Homo sapiens: one gene and its partner. The protein of the gene in region 2 purifies or fractionates together with the protein of the main gene of each other region. This does not show direct contact. Each region holds a gene or a part of one and is shown on either strand. Other genes may lie near its edges.

Region 1 (3,656 bases), on a different chromosome or scaffold from region 2:
TATTTCTTGAACACAGGGTAGGTGCTTAAGGCCTGTTAACCCCTTCTCCCCTCAGTCTTACTCTCTTTCCATCACCTGGGAATCCCAGGGCTTGTGGAATATGGATCTTGCCTGGACATCAGCCTTCCTCCTTTTGCTCTTTAACCTCAAAAAGATGGTGACCCCTTGTGTGTGCACACCACCCAAGGTCACCCTCTGGACACCCCTAATTGGGCCAAGGCCAGTGTCACTAAACTCTCAGGATATTAGCCCTGGGCCAAATCTGCACAGCTGTGTCTTGGCCCAGCCTGGAGAGACAGGCTTGCACCCCAGCCTGGGGCCATAGCCAGTGGCCTTGCACAGCCCTCAGGCTGGCTCTCGGTGGCCGTGTTGTCCTACCAGTCAGCTGCTTCTGGATCTCGGCGTTCCCGGTTCTCCTCAGGAGGCTGACTGCCTCGCGGATCCCATTCTGCCTCCGGGTCTCCAGCTTGTTGGTGGTGCTCCTGAACACCAGGTTGCGCAGGGCCCCTGCCGCGGCCTGCTGGACGTTCTGGTTGGGGCTGCGGAGGAGGTCCACCAGCTTGCAGATGCCTCCCAGCTGATAGACCTGCCAGGAAAGAGTTGCCACGCTGCCTGGTCAAGGGAGATGAGGCTGATCTAGTTATTCTCTACTCAAAGGTGATTTTTTTTTTCAGACCAAAAAATCTATCAGTTCAGAAATATTCAAGTCAACCAAAATAAATAAGCAGTGTGAGGTCATGATAACTGACCCAGACCCGGAGGCAAAAGACCTGGATTCAGATCCTAGCTCCCATATCCTAGCTCCCATATCCTAGCTGGGAGAACCTCAGCTAGGGTCCCTCCTCTTTCCTGAGTCCTGCTTTCTTCCTCTGGAGAATGATGGTGAGGACCTGATAAGAGAGTGGATGTAAATACATTTCAAAACCCTAAAGCAGAACACAGACATAGAAATGCATACAAACTTATCCGGGACTCTGGGAAACTCATTTTTGACACTACATCCTTGGGCTGAACTGAAGAACCCTGTAGTGTCCTTCCTGCCAGCAAAGCTTTGGAGGCATCAACAGGCCTGTTTTCTACCGTAAGATGCCTGGAGAGAGAAGGGGAGTGGGAGAGAGGAAGCAGGTAGGAGGGCAGGAGTTGAGAGGTGAGGAGCAGTCATGTTCTTTAGTGGGATTTGAGAAAAGGGGTTTCTGTTGAACCCGTGGCTGGCATTGAAGTCTCTTCCATGACCAATGGAGGAATTGTACCTGCCTAATGTCCACTTAAACAGAGGGCTTTGCTCTGCAGAAAGTTAAGATGCCCAGCTCTAACCTTGGGCAATGCGAAGGCTCCTGGCAGCTGGGCAAGGCAAGAGAAGCCAACTGCAGATGCCCTCACCCATCTCTAAAAGCGGAGTCAGGCTGACACACCCAGGCCCTCCGCAGGCCCACCAAGGAGGAAGGTATGCAACCAGCTACCTGTTGCTTGGCAGATTCATCCTGGAAGCAGGTATGCTGGATGTAATAGGCCCCAATGGCCTGGTACTTCTCATCCTGGGAGCTCAGGTACTGCACAGCCTTGGGGATGGTCAGCCCACTGCACTCGATGTCCTCACTGCAGATCCTGTGAAGAATAGGCAGTGGGGGTGGTTACGGGGTGGGCTGGGAGCCCTGCTGAGGGGGCTCAGAATTCCTCCCAGCACACTAAGCTGCCACAGCCTCATCTGCCCTCTGGAGAGCCAGAACAAGGCAGCCCAGGCCCACTTGGAGAATACCCCTGGGAACAGCTCCTCTCCTCCAGAGGAGGGAAGGCTACACCCACTGGATTTGCCCCATGTGAGAATAGTGAGCCCCTGGTCACAGTTAATGTCCTAGCAGGTATGTTATCTCTCCACTGAGGAAAAACTCCTCCCTATTCCCTGAGGGGAAGCTTCCCACCTACCTTGCCATCTCTCTTGTTTGTGTCTGGTATTAGGAAAATGGAAGACAATGGCCATGATCCTATCCATCCATCCATCCATCCATCCGTCCGTCCATCCGTCCGTCCGTCCGTCCATCCGTCCATCCATCTGTCCATCCATCCGTCCGTCTGTCCGTCCATCTGTCCATCCATGCATCCATCCATCCATTTATCCATCCATCTATCCATCCCCAAGTCCAGCTGGCTCTTACACAAAAATGTTCACATCTAGCCTTTCTTCCCATTCTTATAGCCACCAATTTCCTGATCTTGATCACTTTAAAGGCAGCAAGGGACTTCCATATTTGGCTTTCTTCCTCAAGTTCCCCCATCTAAAATTTCATACCCTTTTTACTAGATAAGTGGTTCTAAAACCCAGTTCACTGTGTTGTTCTCTAGCTCAGAAACCATCAGCGGCTTCTCCATACTTCAGGTTCAAGTTTAAACAGCTTAGCCTGATGTCCAAGGGCAGGTATTAGGTTGAATCATAGGAAATGTCTGTAGTCAACCTTTTTTCAGCCATAAAACCAGAAATTTCATATGTTTTAACCTAATAACCCGGCTCCACTATGAACATTCCCCAGCCCCTATCCAGGGTCTGCTCCAGCAAGACTGTCCCCTTCACTGTACCCTGGCCAGGTCTCAGGCATGCCTCAAGGCACACCACTGGCCCTGCTGATGCCCCACATCTGTGAAGCCTTCCTAGGGAAGGGAAACCTCTCTTCTAAGAACCTCTCCAGCTCCCCTGGTGTAGAGTCACAGGGTGGTGACTGGCTGTGTCCAGCATTCAAAGAGGGAGCCCTATCCTTATGCTTTGACATACTTGGTGGTCAATAAATACCCATGGTTTTAGCTATAGCAGCCCAACTTCATTTCTAGGAAAACCACCCGAGGTGCAGAGTTCTCTGGCACTGGGTAAGTAGTACTGCTGCCTGCATTGAGAGAATGTCACCCTGCATTCATCAGTAAAATGTCACCCCAAAATGGCTTGACACTCATCCCTTCCATATCTCACCTAGAACCTCCACTCAGGGCCTCTGGTTGGGACAATGAGCTGAAGCCAGAGGCTGCCCTGATCAGCCTCCAAGACAGAGAGGTTTCTTAGTTCTTCTCCAGATCATCCTAAATACGCCTTACGGCCATCAGGTAGTTCGGAAACGTCTAGCTCTATAACGGGGTTCTGCTTATTTTCAGAACAGTGTGGTACCAGTAGGGAAGAGCACAGGATGGAGAGCCAGCTGTGTGGCCTTGGACAAACTACTTAACATCTCTGTGCCTTGTTTTCTCCTCAGGAATACTCATGCCTGCCTGGTGGCGGGTGTGAGGATTAAAGATGAAGAATGCAAAGCTCCTGAGGCTCTCAGAAAAGGAGTTAATTGTGTAGCTCCAGAACAGCTCTGGGTTGTCCCTATCATGGCTGTGTCTCCCGCACTTGTCAAAGAGCCTGGCATGTAGTAGATGGTCGGCAAACATTTGCCAAATAAATAAATAACAAGAGCAGTAGGTGGTGATGAAGGACAGTTCAAAGGTTCAGGGAGCCCCCAGCCCTGAAGGGCAGGCTCAGTGTCACTCACGACACCTCTGCGTCTATGGCTCCTAACGGGGCACCCCATTTGGTCTCCTTTGTTTCCTCTGGGTGATGGCCTTCCACATGTATGCACAGGAGTTGTGCTCTGTTCTGTAGCAGTAGATCATGAAGCCCCATGAAGTCCCTC
Region 2 (3,656 bases):
TAATTTTTGAGGCAAATGGCATTGTATAATATGTCTGTACAAAAAACAAACAAAAAACCAAACAAGGGCAAATAGAACCCTTTGGATTGGTATTGTACTATCTGTTTCTGAAGACCCAGAAACAGAAAACAAACTTTTCCCCAGACTTACTGTTTCCTTGAGAATCCTTTTTCTTTGTTCTTCATACTTTAACTTCCATAAGGAGCTGGCTCCTCTGCCTATAAATAAGAGCTTAGAGAAATACTTCAAAAAGCTACCTACAGTTAGCTAAATATTACCAAGTCTGCCTGGTACATGTTTCATTATATTTCCTTGCCTCAGTTTGTTATCTAGATTTAATTTACACTCCATGTGATATAGCTGTTAAATTAGAAATGAGATTCTTTCTTCTGCTTTAGCAAAATTCAGTGACAATTTTTAGCTCCATTTCCAATTTTTACATATGTGCGATCACTTGGTTCATACTGATAACTGAACTGACTCAGTCTCATATTTATCAGGTCAGATAACTGTGCTTAACCGTGCATAGTGGGCCAGTCATCATTTATGTGTCATCTTCTTTATTTGCTTTGTGAACACTCACCACAGCACCTATTTTTCTCTGGTATTTTTTATACTAATTTTCTTGTTAGAATAGTTTCCTTAATGTACAGAAATTGAACTAGATAATTACAGTTGTTCTAAATATATTTTTCTGGACATTTAAAGAAATCATTCTAACACCAGAGATTAATGTTACCTGTTTTAGTATTTTATACAAATTGATTCCTACAGTGTAAGCTGTATTGTACTGTATACTTCAATTCATATGATAAAGAAATACAATGGGCTGTAACAATACACTAAAAACAGGAATGAGTGAGGGGTTAAGTTCACTTGGAGTATTACACCTATCCTTTGCATCTACTGTTTTCTGTGAAATTTTACAGCAGTGATGCCCTTCCATATAGGTTCTTCCATATAAAATGTGATCATATTTTGGGAAAAAATACAAGAACATTTTAAGGTAATTTTTGATTTATAGATCTATATGATGATAAGTAGATGCCAAGAGGGGTAGGAATTAGAAATGGAAAGAAGTAAACCATAATGTTAAATATTTTCAAAGGATACTTGTTTTTCATACAGGAAAAAAAATTAGGATTTTTAAACACCTCTCCTTCCCTCTTGTTTCAACTTAAAAATGCTATACAGATAAATTCCTCTTGTTTTGTGGAAATACAGAATAAATGTGAAAGAAATACAAATCACTTTATCGTATGCCTATACTTCATGTAGAACAGCTATAGCTGAGTTCTCCCACACAGTCTACTTTGATGGCAGAAATGGAGACACACAGGGTACCCTTATAGTCACGGCAACTTTTGTGTTGTCTTTTTACACAAAGTTGGAAGTATTAGCAAGTGAATTGCTGAAATGTCATTACTACCAGGACTGCTTTGATGATAAGGTTGAATTGGAAAAGTTAATTTTAATAAGCCATGTACAATAATACCTGTTTACTTCTAATGATCTGAAAAGCAGGAAGGTTTTTACGGAGCCATGAACAAAAATCTGAACATGCTTTTCTTAAACTTTTGGAGATTTGAAGAAGGGTTGCAAAATGTCCAAAATACAGTTTTCACAAGAAAACACATCAAACCTGATTGTTGCCAATCATTGTGATATAACTTCTATTCATTTTTGGAAACATACTCCTGCTTTGTCTATCATCACTTGTATGTTTCCTTGCAGTGTGGCCTCAGGAAACAAGTGTATTTTTCTGTCAGACAGAACACAAGTTGCATAGATAAATATTAAAACTAGTACTCATGAAAGCATAACCCATTAGTGAACTTAGGTACAGACACAAATACTTAAGTCAGCAGGAAGTTTACTCTTTCCTTAGGTTACTACTCCATGAGAGTAAGATTGACCATATCATAATGTTTGGAGCCCTTTCTGATGCATTTTCTACAGTGGGTAAAATGATGTAGGTAAAAATATATTGGCTGGGCGTGGTGGCTCACACCTATAATCCCAGCACTTTGGGAGGCCGAGGTGGGCAGATCACGAGGTCAGGAGTTCGAGACCATGGCCAACATGGTGAAATCCCGTCTCTACTAAAAATACAAAAAAAAAAAATTAGCTGCGTGTGGTGACAGGCACCTGTAATCCCAGCTACTTGGGAGGCTGAGGCAGGGAAACCGGAATGTAGAGGTTGCAGTGAGCCAAGCTTGCACCACTGCACTCCAGCCTGGGTGAAAAAGCGAAACTCCATCTCAGGAAAAAAAAAACAAAAAAAATATATATATATATATTTAAATAAATATTTTAATATGTAAATATTTTAAATATCTATATTTAATATATATTAATATATATTAAATATATATAAATAATTTGGTCAGTGCAGTCAGACTGTCTTCCTATTTTAGCTGTAGTTTTGTATAACAAATTTTAAACATTCAAAACATTCTGAAAGAGAAAGGTTCTGGTTATTTGATTTCATAAAAAGAGTTCTTAATCATAGAATTATAGAAGTCCATATAAACGTAGGAATTAAAATTCTTATAGCTGGCTGACAGCAAAATATTAATGTCTTATTCACATATAACACCTTAAGTAAAGCAATCAGTATGCCTAAACACAGATTTATTTTTTTACTTTAGATCATTTTTTTTGGGGGGGGAAAAGAAAAGTATCTAGTAAAAAACTGCCAATACTTAATTTTGGTGTAAGAGTTTGTTTCAGTTTTACATGTTGCTTATAGCTAGAAAAATATTATAATCCAGTCATTTTTAACTTCATAAATATGGACTTATCATACTTTTCATGCTTTTTTTTTTTTTTTTTTTTTTTACTTTGCCCATCCTTCTGCCTTTCATTAAAGCCATTTCTCTTTTTTCCCCCGAACTTGGCAAACTCTTGTGTTTTCAAGACTTAGTTCAAGCTTGATTTGCTTGGGGACTTTTGTTCTATCTGGATTGGGCTAAGTGCCCCTCTTCACTAGCATTTTGGACATAGCATCTTGGACATACCATTTTTCATGTTGTTTTGTAACCATTTGTCTTTCTCTCAAAACTGTAAGCTCCCTAATACCGGTAATAGGTATTTTATTTATATATCTCTAGTGCCTAGCCCAATGTTTGAAACCTCACAGGTGCTCAGTGTTTGACTAGTTGTATAAGTAAGAGAAGGTAAAGGAATCATTGTGTAAACACTGGAAGTTAATAATGCATTTTGATTCTACTACTAAAGAAAATCCAAAAACCAGAAAGGATATATATTCGTTGTCAGATAACAATCTTTATTTCTTGATTTAGGTGTTCACTGTTGGCAGAATTTGTGCCAGCCGTACCAGAATTTATCATAAACTGAAACATTTTAAATTCAAACTATACCAGGAATGTTGCACCATTGCAATGACAGAAGAAGTTGAAGATGAACAAGTTAAAGAAACAGTGGAAAGAATTTTCAGGCGGTCAAAAGAAAATGGCTGGATTAAGGAGGTAAGGTGAATATATGAGAATCTTATCATGTAGATTCTGAAGGCTAATTATGATCAGCAAAAGGAAACAAATGATTAAAAGATAGTGAAATTTAAGAGAATCTCTTTCTTCTGTCGTTTGTATTTTCTCTTCTTCCGCTCATTCCTTTCATGCTTATCATTGTCC

What was found. The genes of interacting proteins can lie anywhere in the genome.
Region 1: the proteins of CCDC82 (region 2) and PKP1 purify together in Homo sapiens (affinity purification with mass spectrometry; 2 studies listed by BioGRID and IntAct, with this or other methods). This does not show direct contact.

Annotation. Positions count from the first base shown.
Region 1 is NC_000001.11:201,314,502-201,318,157, reverse strand, and holds part of PKP1 (plakophilin-1), read right to left. Parts: intron 1,606-3,656; coding exon 1,461-1,605; intron 587-1,460; coding exon 379-586; intron 1-378. UniProt on the Homo sapiens protein: A component of desmosome cell-cell junctions which are required for positive regulation of cellular adhesion.
Region 2 is NC_000011.10:96,358,828-96,362,483, reverse strand, and holds part of CCDC82 (coiled-coil domain-containing protein 82), read left to right. Parts: intron 1-3,305; coding exon 3,306-3,491; intron 3,492-3,656.